Linked DNA regions of Homo sapiens: region 1 is linked to region 2. The links come from fine-mapping of genetic effects on gene expression. A gene starts in region 2. The other region holds a variant in brackets. All regions are shown on one strand. Distances are from middle to middle. Region 1 overlaps PXT1 (peroxisomal testis enriched protein 1). Region 2 holds the start of ETV7 (ETS variant transcription factor 7).

Evidence for each region.
Region 1: its variant is fine-mapped to the expression of ETV7 in whole blood (INTERVAL, PIP 0.96).

What each region holds. Positions count from the first base shown.
Region 1 is chr6:36,416,152-36,424,919 of GRCh38, reverse strand. All of the region lies in intron 3 of PXT1 (peroxisomal testis enriched protein 1), which reads left to right. Among named protein-coding and RNA genes, the nearest start is that of PXT1, 22 kb to the left of the region's middle. The variant G/T (reference allele first, on the strand shown) is at 4,235.
Region 2 is chr6:36,383,183-36,391,950 of GRCh38, reverse strand. It overlaps ETV7 (ETS variant transcription factor 7), which reads left to right and starts at 4,282. Exons shown (of 8, transcript NM_016135.4): 1 at 4,282-4,415; 2 at 6,282-6,417. The coding sequence starts at 4,410. PXT1 (peroxisomal testis enriched protein 1) reads left to right here. Exons shown (of 5, transcript NM_152990.4): 5 at 77-1,400. The coding sequence ends at 181. It overlaps ETV7-AS1 (ETV7 and PTX1 antisense RNA 1), which reads right to left and starts at 5,331. Exons shown (of 2, transcript XR_926758.3): 1 at 5,021-5,331; 2 at 128-175. RefSeq lists a silencer at 4,052-4,261 and an enhancer at 4,388-5,211.

The sequences.
Region 1 (8,768 bases), 33 kb before region 2:
GAGATAGAGTCTCACTTTGTCGCCCAGGTTGGAGTGCAGTGGTACAGTCTCGGTTCACTGCATGCCCGGCTAATTTTTGTATTTTTAGTAGAGCCGGGGGTTTCACCGTGTTGGCCAGGCTGGACTCCTGACCTCAAGTCATCCGCCCGCCTCGGCCTCCCAAAGTACTGGGATTACAGGTGTGAGCCACCGCGACCGGCCTGGTATCCATTTTTTAGAAAGCACTGAATTGACTGAAATTTTGAATCTTCATCTGTTTTTGTATTTGTTTTTGTTTTTTTGAGACGGAGTCTCGCACTGTCACCCAGGCTGGAGTGCAGTGGCGCGATCTCGGCTCACTGTAGCTCCGCCTCCCAGGTTCACGCCATTCTCCTGCCTCAGCCTCCCGAGTAGCTGGGACTACAGGCGCCCGCCACCACGCCCGGCTCATTTTTGTATTTTTAGTAGAGACGGGGTTTCACCGTGTTAGCCAGGATGGTCTTGATCTCCTGACCTCGTGATCTGCCCGCCTCGGTCTCCCAAAGTGCTGGGATTACAGGCGTGAGCCACCGCGCTCCGCCTGAATCTTCATTTGTTAATTCCGTTGTCAACAACAATTATTCCCCAAAGTCTGAGATTGTGTCACCTATGAACACCTTCTAGGAACTTGTAATTTTTTTTAAGAGACGTAATTCACTTAACATAAAGTTCACCCTTTTAAAGTGTACGGACAGAGGGTTTTAGTATACTCACAACGTTGTGCAATCGTCGCCACTATTCTAAGATTTTATGTTTTATTGTAAACTCTTTCCAGTATGTTTTCACACTCTACCTCCTGATCCTCAGATTCCTTGTGAAGCTGATCGCTGTCTTCCGAGGCGTTCTGTGGGCGTTGCTACTTTTGCCTCAAATGCTTTCCTAATTACAGTTTCACTTCAAAAGAAGAGGCAGGTGAAGTTACTAACGCTGCTGCCCTTGATTTAGAGTTAACAACCCACTAGCTAACGTACATGCTTGTTTTCATGCCTAGAACTCCCGTTTTACCATACGCGAGTTATATGTCAAATCTCATTAGTGACTGGTAGTCTGGTGGGCCACCAATGTGCTTTCAACGCCTGCCAAACAATTAGAAACCAGGGATCTTCCAATAAAGTGCTGTCTCCCATGTCCTCCCACTTCTGGCCCAGGACACCTGGGTTGCCTTTCTGTTCAGGCAGCAGCGCGTTTCTCCCCTTCATCTTTATGATACCACTGAAGAAATGAGGGATGTGCGGAATGAGGGGGCGGTGTGAGGGGGCACGAACTTGTTATTACGGCGTCGAGAACGCCAGATAGAGTAACCAAAGACTGATAGAATAAATAACGCTGGTGTGTGTAATTCGGGAACCCGGCCTCCCTAACTCCCGCTCCCGCCAGGAGCCCGAGGCGAGCTACGCGCGCGCCGCCGCCGGCCGCGTCGCCATGTGCGCTCCCCATTGGCCACAGCTGGCCCACGTGACCTCTATCGCCTAACCTGCTCGTCCGCGCGCGCGCTTTTTCCACCACAGAAAGCCTAGGGCGGGAGCGGGGTTCTCACTGGTTGCGCGGGTCGCGCGCCCAGCTAAAGTGCGCGAGGTGGTTCCGAGGACCTGGCGGCGCTCTCTGGCGGGGAGCCTGAGAAAATGCCTAAGTACTGTCCAGAGGAAAACTCTTACTGAGGAAGCAGGAGATTGAGGAGGTCCACCTCTCCCCTCAGTGGCTTCTGTCCGGGGCTGTGACACAGACAGACTGAAAATGGAAACCACAAGGCAGGAATGTGACTCGCTGAAGCCAAGATTTATCTCTTTGGGGGCGCTCTACACATACAAACATAACTCTTCGGGGGAAAATACATAATTTTTGTATGGGGAATTCAAAGCCACATTTTCTTAGAAGAGTTGAGGGTCGTGGGAAGTCCAGAGCAACCATCCTGATACACATCATTTAAGGGAAATTAGAAACTCCTGGGGAAACAAAGATGAGTAAAAGCAAAAGGAGGCCCTGCCCACCATTGCTGTGCGGGAATGGAGTGATTTGACAAGGGGCAGAAGTGTAATAATTACTGATGGGAAAGGGCTAAATAAATAAATGCGTGTGCATGTGTGTGTAAGTAGTATAAATGGGAAATATAATTGTAGAATTCAATAGAGAGTACAGTTTAGCTTATTTTTCTCTTTAAGAGTGCTTGGAAGCTTTGCTTTTGCTTTTTTTAATTTTTTGCCTCGATGGCTCACCAACCCTTCCTCCTCTAGATATACATTTTCTTTTTTAATTCGTTCATTCATTCCAGAAATTCTAGAACCTACTATATTCCAGGCACTGTGCTAGGTACTGAGATGACAGTGATAAATAAAAACAGTACCAGTTCCTTCAGTCATGGAGCGTATGGTCTGGTAAAGGAAGCAGACAGTAGTTAATTGCACATATCAATGTTAAATATAATGTGATAAGTGCTAAGGAGAGGTCTAGATGTCATAATGGGGGATTTGACCTAGCAGGGAGATCAGAGAAGGCTTCCCTCAAGATGCAACCCCTGACATGAGACCTGAAGGGGTTAAGGGGGATGGAGGTTGCAGACAGAGGGAGCAGCTTGTGCAAGGGAGAACTGGGAGCCTCTCCCCTTCCAATTACTGCCCATCTCACCCATTTCCACTATACATACATTAATCTTGCCCCTTAGTTCTCAGGAGACATTTGTTCTCTTAATTCCAAGTTCTTAGGGAGTGCCTGGTTGTAACCTACAATGATTGTTAAAGACAGTGTTATTCAATAGGTAAGTATACATATCTAATATACATATCAATATACATTTAATATACAATACATATTAATATACAGTCTAATATGCATTATCTCTGTTGTTTTGTATAAGAAAAATATACAATGACTGTAACAAATCGTAGGATATGATATATCTCAATAGAACTAAAAGTGCTGTAGACAAAGTAGTGAGAGATCACATGATTTTGGAAGACTCAAAAAAGGCATCTTAGAGAAAGTAATTTTCAAAAATCATTGAGGTAAGATTTGGTCAGATAAAGATACAATTTAGTTAGAGCATAGGGTTCTAAAAGAAGAGTAAGGAGGTTGGACCAATCAGTTGAAATACATTCCAAGGGCTTTGAAAACCAGTCTAAAAAGTTTGTAGAAACTAAGCTAGTGCAGCGGCTTGCCTCTGTAATCCCAGCTATTCCAGAGGCTGAGATGGGAGGATTGCTTGAGCCCAGGAGTTTGAGATCAGCCTGGGCAATGTAGCAAAACACACTCTCTAAAATATTTTTAAAAGTTTGTAGAAATTAAAAAGTTCTATTTAAGTTTTAAAAACTTTCCTGAGATACTTTTTCTCCCCTAATATTTGTCTTGGAAAATTTTAAATCTACAGAAAAGTGGCAAAATTAACTCTGTGGTTATTCGTAAACCCTTCCCACAGATTAATCAGTTTTGTTTTGCTTTGCTTTTTTTGAGACAGGGTCTTACTCAGTTGCTCAGGCTGAAGTGCAGTGGCGCGATCATAGCTCATGGCAGCCTCGAACTCCTGGGCTCAAGTGGTCTTCCTGCCTCAGCCTCCCAAGTAGCTGGGACCATAGGTATGCATCATCAGGCCCAGCTAATTTTTTGTTTTTTGTAGAGACAGCATCTCACTTTGTTACCCAGGCTCATCTTAACTCCTGGGCTCAATGATCCTGCCTTGTCCTTCCAAAGTGTTGGGGTTACAGGCGTCAGCCACACCTGGCCTTGGTTTTTTTTTGTCGTTGTTGTTGTTGTTTTTTAATTTTGCCCCATTTGCTTTATCCTAAGAACAAGGATATTTTTCTGCATAACCACAATACAATTATGACACTTCCGAGATACTTTTTTTTTTTTTTTTGAGACGGAGTCTCTATCTGTCGCCCAAGCTGGAGTGCAGTGGCACAATCTTGGCTCGCTGCAACCTCCGCCTCCCGGGTTCAAGCGATCCTCTTGCCTCAGCCTTCCCAGTAGCTGGGATTACAGGCGCACACCACCATGCCCGGCTAATTTTTTTGTATTTTTAGTAGGGATGGGGTTTCACCATGTTGGCCAGGCTATTCTCAAACTCCTGACCTCAGGTGATCCGCCCACCTTGGACTCCCAAAGTGCTGGGATTACAAGTGTGAGTCACCACGCCTGGCCCTGAGATACTTTTAAATTTAAATTTTGAATAAGTATTTATGAATTAATAATAAGTGACTTACCAATTTTAATTTTATAGCACGTT[G/T]TAAGTGCTATATGTTTGCTTAAAAAATATATTTTCTTGGCTAGAAAAATAAAGAATATGAAAAGGCATACAGTGAAGACTCTCTCTTTCATTCTTGTCCCCCATCTGCTCAGTTCTCACTCCCCCAGTTCCCTATCTTAGGCAACTATTGTTCTTAGATTCTCAGGTATCTTTCCAGAATTTCTTTATACAAGCATGGACAATTGTGAATATGGACTTTTGTTCCTATTTTTGGATGAAAAGTATCATATTAAGCACATGATTCTTACTTGCTTTGTCACTTAATATGATTTGGAGATCCTTCTGCATTAATGCTTAAATAACTTCCTCATTGTTTTTTACAGTGGCATAGTATTCCATTGTGTGGATATACCATAATTTATTTAAACTGTTCCCTACTGACTTACACTTGGGCTGTTTCCAATTACTTAATATTGAAACCAATGCTGCAACAGATAACCTTAAACATATTTCTGTTTGTAAAATTTGATTGATAGATAGATAGATAACATTGCTCCCTACATAGGTTGTACCAATCTAAATTCCCACCAGCAATTGTGAGAGTATCTCCAGGCTTTTACAACAGTGGCTGACATGTTGTAAGTGCTATATAAGTGTTTGCTTAAAAAATAGATTTTCTTGTTTAGAAAAATAAATAAATGAAAAGATGTACAGTGAAAAGCCTAGCCCTAAACCCACCTACTTAGGAGCTTACTCTTGGCTGAGGTGAATCAATGCATTGAGACCCTGGCCCTCTCTTCCCACACTATCTTCTCCCTCCCACTCTTGACTCTGTTGTAGGGTCTTGGAGATTTGGGGACCATTGCTGATCAAAGGCCAAATATTTCGCCTGGTTCTAAACCGGGAGCTTTAAATACATGAATGTGCATTATTGTTGCTGTTTTACAACTTTAAATGAAAGGAGAGCTGACTTCAAGACAAATGGAAAGGTAATGCTGTTTTTAGATAAAGCTACAGAGTAGCCAGCCTTTTTCATACAACCCTAACCTAATCAACAAATATCTATTGAGTACTTCCTATGTATAGGGCACTGAGCTAGGTCTTAGAGTTATGAAATAGATACATGCCCTCAAGGATTTCACCATTTAGTTGTTTAGACAGGCACAAAATATAAATAATCATTATGTCAAGTTTCAACATGCTTTTGCTTTTGGCGTACTCACTGCTTTCCTTCCTGTCTCCTTCCTCCTCTGCCCCTTTGCCTACCTAACTGCCCTGATCACTGAGCTGCCCAAGGCTTGTTGGTTTCCTTGTAGCTCCTTCATTTCTCCCAGTGTCCATTATTGAAACTTACCCAACTTGTATTTCACTTTCCTGATGCAGATATTAGGGTTTGTATTTCTCAAGTGATAATTAGTTATGATTAGTTATTCTGTTAAACTAATAGTTACAAATCAATATGCTTTTGATTGGCACAGGCAGGCCTAGCCCATTTGGAAGTAGGTGAAATTTGTTCAGTCTTCCCATTTGATTCCTGTCTGGGCACCTTCTCTCCTGGGTGAGCTCTCAACCCTCATTGATGTCCTCACTTTTTTTCAGGTGATTGTCAACTAATCATTAGGGTGTTATTTCAAAATGGTTTGAAGTGAGGATCTCAGGAGTATGTGTATGTTTCAAGATACAATTTTATAGAAAACTGAAATTACAGGCAATAGGGTTGCAATTTTGATCAGAAGGCCGTAAGCCACCGACTTAGGGACTTACCCTTGGCTGTGGTGAATTAATGCCCTGGCCCTCCCTGCCCCACACTATCTCCCCCCTGCCACTCTTTACTCTGTCATGGGATCCTGCAGTTTTGGGGACCATTACTGTCAGAGAACTTTGAACCCAGCTGGCAGCTGTGGCTCAGTGGCCTCTGGAGGAGAGTGGGAGTGTAACGGTGGAAGTGAGTCGGTACTCTCCAGTGCCCTCAGGCACTCTTCCCTTTATCTTCTCCCAGTCAGCTTGCAGCCTCGCTGCCCATGGTGAAAGGTGATTTTTTTTCAATCTCTATCACTCTGTGTAGGTGGCTGCCTTTTCCACTCAGCAGAAGTGGTTCTCACTAGTTGCCCAATGTATTTAAAAGTGTGGATTTGTATACTGATGCTGTATTTTTGTTGCATTAATTTTTTTTAAATCAAAGCAACTCAGGTTCATGGAAACAAATCAACTAGTACAGAGAGCTTATGTTGAAAAGGGGCTTGGACCAGCACCTGGCACATAGAAAGCCCTCTATTTGTTGAATGAATGAATAAATGAATGAATACAAAGTCAGTGTCCAGCCTGTCCTTTTCACCTCCACCCCATCCCACCATTCCATTACTAGCAGTGAAATTCCTTAATTGGTCATGTTTTCCAGTTTTCTAGATCCGTGATTCTTAACCCTGGGTGCATGTTAGAATTATCTGGGGAGCTTAAAAAACAAACAACAACAACAAACCTATGTGTATTCTCATTCCCAGACTAACAAATTTACTTTTTTTTTTTTTTGAGACGGAGTCTCGCTCTGTCGCCCAGGCTGGAGTGCAGAGGTGCGATCTCAGCTCACTGCAACCTCCGCCTCCTGGGTTCACGCCATTCTCCTGCCTCAGTCTCCCAAGTAGCTGGGACCACAGGCGCCCGCCACCACGCCCGGCTAATTTTTTATATTTTTAGTAGAGACGGGGTTTTACCATGTTAGCCAGGATGGTCTCGATCTCCTGACCTTGTGATCCGCCCGCCTCAGCCTCCCAGAGTGCTGGGATTACAGGCATGACCACCGCGCCCTGCCCACAAAATTACTTTTTAAGCCTCCAAGCTGATTGTCTTGTGCAGCCAGAATTCAGAACCAAACCAGTGTTCTAAATAATGTGCATTTACATTTATTCCTCTCTCTCTTTTTTTCTTTTCTTTTTCTTTCTTTCTTTTTTTTTTTTTTTGAGACAGGATCTCACTGTGTCTCCGAGGCTGGAGTGCATTGGTGCAATCTCAGCTCACTGCAGCCTTGACCTCCTGGGCTCAAGCGATCCTCCCACCTCAGCCTCCCAAGTAGCTAGGACTGCAGGCGTACACCACCACGCCCGGCTAAGTTTTTGATTTTTTTTTTTTTTTTTTTGTAGAGACGAAGTCTCACTATGTTGCCCAGACTAGTCCGAAACTCCTGGGCTCAAGCGATCCTCCTGCCACTGCCTCTCGAAGTGCTGGGATTGCAGGAGTGGGCCACCATGCCTGGCCTGCTGCTATCTCTTGGTTAATCAAACTCATATCATTCATTGACTCCGTGACATGGCAGATGAGGTTTAGCGCATACTGCACCCTCTCTTTTTCTCATATTTGATGTTAAATTATTATTATTATTTTGAGACGGAGTCTTGCTTTGTTGCCCAGGCTGAATTGTAGTGGCGCAATCTCGGCTCACTGCAGCCTCTGCCTCCCGGGTTCAAGCGATTTTCCTGCCTCAGCCTCCTGAGTAGCTGGGATTACAGGTGCCCGCCACCACGCCTGGCTAATTTTTGTATTTTTAGTAGAGATGGGGTTTCATCATTGTTGGCCAGGCTGATCTCGAACTCCTGACCTCAGGTGATCTGCCCGCCTCGGCCTCCCAAAGTGCTGGGATTACAGGCGTGAGCCACTGTGCCCGGCCGTTAAGTTATTTTAATACTTCTCTCTGTTGTCTTCATAAACTTAAATAATTTGCACTCCTATTTCTTATTTGATCCATGTTCAGCAATATCACATGAACTCCCATTTTGTAGGATGAAGATACTAACTTCCATGTCTTCTTCTCACCCAGTCTTCTGGAGCCTTCTATTTGTTCCCTATATTTTTTAATTCTTACATTTTTGAAGTTGTTACCATTTGCATTCTGGCCTCCAGCCACAGTCAGCTCTTCCATGCTATCCGTAAGTTGTTTCTAAAAGTTACAAACCAATAAACTTGGTTTACATTATAGTATCTATATAGTGTCTATCACCAGGTCTAGTGATAGTAGCTGACATTTATATAATACAGGATTTATTGTATAGTAGGTACTTTATGAACATCGTTGTTTAATAGTCATAATGATCAGAAGGTCCCTTTTTAAAAATGGGGAAACTGAGGCACAGAGAAGTTGAGGCTTACCTAAGAACAGGAAGTCAGAAAGTGACTGAGACAGAACTTGAACCATTTCCTACAGAAGGATAGGATGAATTTTTTTTTCTTTAGGTACAAGTTTAGGACCCTTGCCAGCTGGAAAGACAATGCACATCAAGGTCAAATACATATTTTTCTCTTCTCTGTTTTGGGGAGGAATAAGGGTGGTCTTTGGGTCCAGTCAGTTTTCTTTTTTCCATTTCTGTTTATTCTTTTTAGAGATAGGGTCTGGGTCTTTGTCTGTTGCCCAGGCAGGAGTGCAGTGGCATGATCATAGCTCACTGCAGCCGCCAGCTCCTGGGCTCAAGCGATCCTCCCACTTCAGCCTTCTGAGTAGTTAGGACCACAGGTGCACTCCATCACACCCGGCTATTTTTCTTTTCTTTTCTTTTCTTTTTGGTAGAGACAGGGTCTTGGTCTA
Region 2 (8,768 bases):
TTTTTAACTTTGGATTATTCTATCACTTTTAAAAAAAAAAAAAAACCTTTCTCTGTGTCTCCCTTTTTTCAAATAGGATCTTCAACAGGATGGCAGAGATGCACTAGATCATTTTGTCTTCTTTTTCTTTAGAAGAGTTCAGGTGTTGCTGCATTTTTTCTGGAACAACCATTTGCTGTAAAAGGAAAGTAAAGGTCAAGTGGTCAAGTTCTGTTTTCTTTTTACCCTCTGAGAAACATGAATCCCACTGGGACAGATGGGAAGAACACCCTTCTCCGTCTCCCTCTTTTTGTACCCATCACTGTTGGTCTACACCCAGTTTGTTGAAGAACTGCGGGTTCACGAGCCATTTGTCTCTTCGGAGGAGCTAGCTATGAGATGTCTGCGATCACATCACGGTAAAGCCCAAGGAGTAATTAGGACCCCAGGAAGCCTTGCTGCCCAGAAAACACCAGCGCTGTGGATGGTCCCAGGGCTCCTTGTGAGGAAACCTTGAACATTTCCTTCCAGGAATGAAAGAGAACCTCGTCCTCAAACTAAAGGCCACAGAAATGGGCACTACCTCCTGGCCCACTCCCTGGGCACCATGCCCTCTGGTGACCTGTTGGCTCCACTCTTGTCACTCATGTCCAGATCTGCAGTGCCAGCTTCTCCTTCTCGGTGACATGTCACCTCCCTGCCCCAATCCTGGCTCCAACCCTCTCTGGAAAATCGAAGTGAAACATTTGTCTCTAATACTCAAATTCAACATATGGCTCATCTCATCTACCTTCCCATTTCCATGCCTAGAGGCCCCACTACTACCACTAGCACCGTTGGGTGTTTCCTTCTCAGGCTCTGATTCTACAACATTTACGTTCTTTTCTCACCTTTGATCCCCTCACTCCTCTGTGACCCCCTTCAAGTCTTCCTTCACCACTCCAGTGTTTTCCCATACCACTCGACCCTGCTCGAAGGTATCTTTCCCTGCTCTGTCATCCTCTTTTAGGCATGCCTGCTTAAAATCGGGAGTGCTTAGTCCTTGGCCAACAGTCCTGCCTTCTAGAAGAATGTAAGACCTGAAAGAGTTATGAATCTATCACTAGGCAAAAACTTCTCTTTTCCTATTGCTGGATGGTTTTGCTATTATTGGTTGGTGGGCCCTTTGCCTGTGGAATGTATTTCACTCATTCTCTCCTGCACGCTGTTAGGCAGTTCTTTCACCTGCATGCTTCTTCTTTTACCTTTTTGTCTACCTCATAGTCCCTCTCTCCCCTCCTTTAAAAGAATTATAAATATTAGGAAAGCTTGTTGTTATAAATTAAAAGTTTACATATGTATCTTGAGTTCTTCATAGGGGAAGTGTTATTTTAAAAAATTCTAAAAATGAAATAAATATTGTTATTTTATTGAGCATGAAACCCCTGTGCATATTTCTTTTTTGAAGGAGGAACCCCACAGCAGGGTCTAGCCACTTATTCCTGCTCATATTGGTTTGTAGACTTTGATTATACATAGCATTGACTTTGTCCTTCCAAAGGGAAATGTCTCCATTTTTTAGTCTGTCGCAGGCAGTGCATATTTATTTCTATTATTACTTAGGTTCTGGCTGACTAGCCCTAAAACTGTCTTTTTAAAATTTATTTTGAATAGGTTTTTATTTATATGATTCAAAAATCAAAACAAGGCCAGGCACAGTGGCTCACGCCTGTAATCCCAGCACTTTGGGAGGCCGAGGTGGGCAGATCACGAGGTCAAGAGATTGAGACCATTGTGGCCAGCATGGTGAAACCCTGTCTCTACTAAAAATACAAAAATTAGGTGGGTGTGGTAGCACGCACCTGTAGTCCCAGCTACTCGGGAGGCTGAGGCAGGAGAATCGCTTGAACCCAGGAGGCGGAGGTTGCAGTGAGCCGAGATCATGCCACTGCACTCCAGCCTGGCGACAGAGCAAGACCCCATCTCAGAAAAAAAAAAAAAAATCACAACCATGTGAAAAGGTTTACAACAAAAACCCTTTCTATTATTTTCTACTCTAAATTCCAGTTATGCTTATTAGTTTTTATGTATCCTTCCAGAGGTTCTTTGTATAAATACTAATTAATACATACATACATACATACACACACACACACACACACACGTATATTTACATACAAGAGGTAGCATGTAATACACACTGTTTTGTACCTTGATTTTTTTACTTAGCGTGGGTGTTCAGGCACTGTTCTGGGTGTTTTATAAAAGTTAACTTACTTATTCATAACAACCTTATGGGATAGGTATTATTATTTGCTCTTTTTTACTGTTAAAAAATTGAGGCAGTAGTTAGTAGAGGGAGGCAGTAGAGTGGTTAACACAAACTTGCTCAAGGGCACACAGCCAGTAAATGACATGGCTGGGATTCCAAACCAGGCAGGTGTTCCTAAGTCTAGATTATTATCCACTATGCCATACTGCCTCTTGGAGAGCTTGCCATGATCCACAGAGAACTCCATAAAGTGTTGTATTGTATTCAGTTAAATGAATGTACATAATTTGGCTGGGTGTGGTGGCTCACATCTGTAATCCCAGTGATTTGGGAGCTGAGGTGGGAGATCACTGGAGCCCAGGAGTTGGAGGTTAAGGTGGGCTTTGATGGCACCACTGCACTCCAGCCTGGGCGACAGAGTGAGACCCTGTCTCTAAAAAAAAAAAAAAAATAGAAAATTAAAATTAAAAGAAATGAATGTGCATTAGTTTATCAAGCCTCCTTTTGTGGACACCTGAGTTATTTCTCATACTTTGCTATTATAAACCATGATTAAATAAGTAACTATGTATACTTTGGATATTTGTTGAATAAATTTCTGGTAGGCAGATTGCTGGGTGAAAGGAAAATGCATTTGTAAATTTGCCAGACCCCGCTGTGGGGTTGCACCACTTTACCTCAGCTTTTCCAGCAGATTATGTTAGTAAACTTTTAAATTTTTGCCAAATTTATGGGTAAAAATTTCTATCTCAGAATAACTTTAATTTGCACATTTAAAATAGTGAGTTTGTCTGAGCATCTTTTTCTTTCTCTGCTGCCCAGGCTGGAGTGCAGTGGCACAGTCACGGCTCACTGCAGCCTCCAACTCTCAGGCTCAAGCGATCTTCCATCCTCAGCCTCCTGAATAGCTGGGGCTACAGGTGTAGCCCCACCATGCCCGGCTAATTTTTTAAATTTTCAGTAAAGACAGGATCTCACCATGTTGTTCAGACTGGTGTCCAACTCCTGGGCTCAAGCGATCCTCCCACCTTGGCATCCCAAAGTGCTGGGATTACAGGCATGAGCCACTGCACCCTGGGCATCTTTTTGTATATTCAGGAGCCATTTGGCATTTCCTTTTATGTGGACTGTTTATTCATATCCTTTGCTCATTTTTTTTTCCTACTGGGTTTCTGGCCTTGTTCTTACTGGTTTCTTATTGCTGGCCTAGAGCTTGTGATGATATACCAGTGCTAAGCCTACTTTGTAACAGCGTCTACACCCTCAGATTTTCAGCAGAAGGTTGTTAATGCTTTTCTTTCCTTTTCTTCGGTGTCTTCTGGTTTGTTTTTATGCGCACAACCTCTCTTGAGACAGGGGGAGCTGAGACAGATGGAAAGGGTGATGGGTGGGCAGGCACCAACCCCGGAGCACCCAGAGGCCCAGGAAAAGGTGTCAGTCGGGATCTCCGAGTAGTCTGGCCCTGCTCAGGAGAGCACAGCCGCTCTGATGGTGGTGCGACGGTTCCGGACCTGTGGGGCCTCAGCGGGGCCAAACGGCAGGCCGAGACAGTATCGGGGCCGGGAAGGTCACTCACCCCTAAAGGGAGAGGCACCATGCGAGGCCCCTTCCTATCCTATGTGCGGAGACTCACAGGGTCCTTCCTGGTCCTGGGCTCGGGACCGTGAGAGACGCAGTTGGTTCCGAGTTCAGGACTAGGGGTCCCCTTAGATCCTCAGATCCTGCAGAATCCCGGCTCTGCCCCAGTGGGAGCCAAGGCCAGGTCGCCAGAGGGACTGTCCGCCGGCTGGAGGCTGTGTGCAGGACCCACGCCTCCCAGGCTAGCGAGCGGGCAGCGCCCCGGTGCTGCGCTCCCACGGGGCCGGCCCCTGCCCTGCCCTGCCCTGCTCCTAGCCCGCAGCGGCGCAAGTGGAACCGCATCCCGCTCTTTCGTTTTCGTTTCCCGGAAGGATAGCGATTACCGGAGCGCCTCGCGCGCCTGCCCGCCTGCGGAGGACCCGGGCGCACACGCCTTGGCGCTTCTCGAAAGAGATTTCCTCCCACGCGACCTTCCAGTTCTCGGAGCCAGGTTAGGGGTTTGGCGGAGGAGGACTGCGGGGCGCGGGCCTAGGGCCCCAGCAGCCACAGCCAGGGGAGCGCTCAAGACAGAAAGCCGGTGGCTTCCTCACCTCCACCTGTAATGCAGGTAAGAGCCTGGCGGCTGAACACGCAGCGCGCACGCAGAGCCACCTGCTCCCGCATCCTTTCCTCACCACCTAGATTTCCAAACCTATTTTATCAGACCTTTTACCTGGCGGGAATCTCTCTTTCCAACACATTCCTAAACCTCACATCCATCCCTCACTCACTTCCCCTTCCACCTCCAGACGCGGGTCACCGCCCCTGACTCTCTCGGTGTCATACACAGCTCTGAAGGCATCACGCACAGCCCCTGCGGGCCCTTTCCGCAGCCCCCTTACCACTGGTCGCCCCTACACCAACCAGATGTGAGGTCTTTGGAAGTTCGTGCGCCAGCCAGGTCCTCACAGCTGGTGAACGCATTCTCGCAGGGAGCCCCTCTTTAGCAGCCTCTCCCCACTCGCCGGTTTTCTAGGTGCCTCGAGACTGCCCCCAGAGCTGGCGCCCCGTCCCACTCCAAGGCCTTTCTCCACTCCCCTCTCGCCAGGACCCATACCCATTATCAGACCCTTCCCTGGCCTCCATGCTGAAACCCAGGAGTCTGATCCTCAGCAGCTCCGTGGCTGGCGTTTCCCAGGCAGTTACAGCCTCGGAATTCCCCGCTCCTCTTACTTGGATGAGGACAGAGGAGTAGACAAAGAGCCTCCTGCAAGCCTCCTTGGCAAGTCCGAGGCAAGTCCTGTGCCTTGAGCCCCTTCTCCAGCAAGGCAAGCTTCCCTTTCCCCACCAGGAGGCAACCCCTGAGGTCTGATTACTTGGGAAACAGCACCAAAGGGGGACCGGCTGGAAATGAAGTGAGAACGACCCGGAAAGGTGTTGAATCCCCTTTCGCAGCAGCCAAGGCTTCTGGAGTTTGCTTTGCTGGCTCCGATCCAAATTCTCTCTCGGCAGATATCTCTCCTCGGATCCCAAGAGATGAATGTAAAGCTTTTGACAATCCTAGAGTGAAAAATGACTTGATGGAGCTGGTTTCACTTTTCCTTTCCGTGCTGTGGCAGCCTGTGGCTGGGCATGAGCCCGAAGGAGCTTCCTATTCCTACAAAATCCTGCCACTTTCTTCATTTTCTCATCTGAATGGATGAACCCCGTCATCTCTGGGGGCCATGCTGATTGTTGAATTGTAAAGATACAGGCTTCCCGTGGTGAGACCTTAGGATTCAGAAATGTATCCTTATCCTTTCTTTTTCTCTTTTGAAAATAGTGTTTGTTTGTTCTGAGACGGAGTCTTGCTCTCTTGCCCAGGCTGGAGTGCAGTGGCGTGATCTTGGCTCACTCCAACTTCCGCTTCCCGGGTTCAAGTGATTCTCCTGCCTCAGCCTCCTGAGTAGCTGGGATTACAGGCGCCGGTCACCACGCACGGCTAATTTTTGTATTTTTCGTAGAGATAATGTTTCACTATGTTGGTCAGGCTGGTCTCAAACTCCTGACCTCAAGTAATCCACCCGCCCCAGACTCCCAAAGTGTTGAGATTATAGGTGTGAGCCACCGCACCTGGTCTATTTGTTTATTTCTGATTTAAGGTCTTTTGATCCTGGCCCCTCAGGTTTCCTGTGTTGTCCTCACCAGGGATCCAGTGAGGATTCCTAGGCTTTCAGATTTCAATCATACAAGTCTTGGCAGGGGATCCCTCTTGGAGTTAGGCACATGCATGGAAAGCTTGAATTGGAAGGATGTCATTTATTGTGTCCACTGGGTACAAAATGTTGATGGTACTGAGTTGAAGATATACATGGTTCCTACCTTTAAGGTTGATGCAGTCTTCTGGTGGAGATAAACACTCTTTCCCTTCCAAAAAAATTCTTAAGACATTTAAAGATGGCTGAGCCTTCACCAAGATGCTCTTCTTTGACTGTCCTGGTTTTTCTCTCTCTAGGAGGGAGAATTGGCTATTTCTCCTATAAGCCCTGTGGCAGCCATGCCTCCCCTAGGCACCCACGTGCAAGCCAGATGTGAAGCTCAAATTAACCTGCTGGGTGAAGGGGGGATCTGCAAGCTGCCAGGAAGACTCCGTAAGTAGAGGGGAGGAGAAAAGCTGAGTTTTTAAAAGTAAATTTTTATTTTGTTTTAGATCCAGGGTCTTGCTCTGTTGCTTACTTAGGCTAGAGTGCAGTGGTGTAATCATAGCTCACTGCACCTTCAACTTCCAGCTCCTGGGTTCAAGTAATCCTCCCACCTCAGCCTCTCCAATAGCTGGGACTACAGGCACACTGGCTAATTTTAAAATTTTTAGTAGAAATGGGAATCTCAGTATGTTGCCCAGGTTGGTCTTGAACTCTTGGGCTCAAGCTATCCTCTCGCCTCTGCCTCTCAAAGTGCTGGGATTACAGGTCTGAACCACTATACCTGGCCCTTAAAATTAAATTTTTTTTTAAATAAGAGACAGGGTTGCTCTATGTTGCCCAGGTTGTTCTCAAACTCCTGGGCTCAAGTAATCCTCCCATCTCGGCTTCCCAAAGTGCTGGGATCACAGGCATGAGCCACTGTGTCTGGCCAAAATTTTATATATATCTCATACCATAACTTTGTATTGCATAAATATATACAATTATTATTTATAATTTGTCAATTAAAAATTTAATTTTTGCCAGGTGCCAAGATTAACTTACCTTCCCTCTGTTTGCTGTTTCTTTGCTGAGTTTTCTTTAGCTTTTTGTTTGTGATGGAGTCTCACTCTTGCCCAAGCTGGAGTGCAGTGATGTGACCTCAGCTCACTGCAACCTCCGCCTCCCTGGTTCAAGCGATTCTCCTGCCTCAGCCTCCTGAGTAGCTGGAACTACAGGTGTGTGCCACCACACCTGGCTAATTTTTGTATTTTTTAGTAGAGATGGGGTTTCACCATATTGGCCTGGCTGGTTTTGAACTCCTGACCTTGTGATCCACCCGCCTCGGCCTCCCAAAATGCTGGGATGACAGGTGTGGGCCACCGCACCCGGCCAAGGTTAGAAATTTTAACACAACTTCTAAGAAACACTTTCTAATAGTGAGGTTCAAACACAAGACCCACAACTCTCCTCTGAGCCCTGGGAAATCCTATTTCCCTAAGACCAAACTTCCTAAGCTCAGAGGCTCACTAAATATCTATTGAATGAATTAATGAATGAATGACTAGGGATCTTCATCAAGAACACCAGGACCTCCAAACAATGCAGGATCACTTCTGTGGGCCCTTCTGAGATGGTCACCAGATCTTCCTGCACACTTCTAGGGACAGGCATTTCCTCCCCTCTTGAGGCAGCCTATTCTCTGATTGCATAACTCAGGGTGCAGGTCACCGTGGCCTATTTTCTCCTAGATTAGAACTCCTGAGCTACCAGTTCTGTTGCCTTGGGTTAGATTTCCCCAGGAGCAGACCCTAAAACACTGGTGAGGAGTAGGGAGGAAAGACAGAGAAGAGAAGGAAATCCCAAAGGTGTTCTTTTGGTCCAGTTAGCACCACGGGGATCTCTGGGGACAGTGAATCCTAAGTTATTCCAACCAGTGGGTAAGGGGATTATCCACTCACTTCCCTTCCATGACAGCATGAATGCTGTTTCCAGGGGTATTGGCTCTCCAGCATTTCCAAGTTACCCTGTACACTGGCTAAGGGGTTCCTGCAGCCAGAAAAAGCCCAAGGCAGAGTCAGATGGGGCATTCGGCAGCCTTCAGAGTGTGGAGGTGAGAGGCAGGGCCTATGGGCAGGGCCCCAGCAGCATCTTCTATACCTGTCATCTTAGATTCCATGACTCATATTTATTGGAACATCTGCAAATATTCAGACAATACAGTTCTGGCCCTTAGTAAATACCTGACAGTTTTAAAAGATAGGGGATGACAAATGACTCATTTTCCTGTCAACAGCATCCCAAACAAGCAAACTGCTGACACCAAATGAAGATTCGACTTTTCAGCCCTGTTGGGGGTGATCTCAGCCCAGTTTCCTAAATTTCTGGAAGCTGGGTTTCCATCTCTGCCCATCTCTCTGATGTTTATTCCCCGTCACCCACCCCATTCCCTCCCCTACCTCCAACCTCCATTTTAGTAGTCAGGACTGATTTGCCTCAGCAGGAAGTGAATAAACAAAACAGATCTTGTTTAGCCTTGTGAGTTGATGCTAAGAGGAGCACGGAAGTTATTTTCCTGTAGAGCTCACTTTTTTTGTGTTGATTTTCCTGACAAAGATGTGTAGTAAAGCAGTGGAAAGTCCACTCTGAGGACAACCGTGATGTCCAGGGTTGTGGCAAGGGTCAGGAGGTCTACTGGGATGGAGGAGTGGGATTCACGGAGATTCACAACTATGCTTCCCTGTATGGAAATGGGGAACAAAAGAGGATTCTCACCTCCCCATCCCCGGTCCATGGCCATGAGGGTCTGCCCAAGGCCA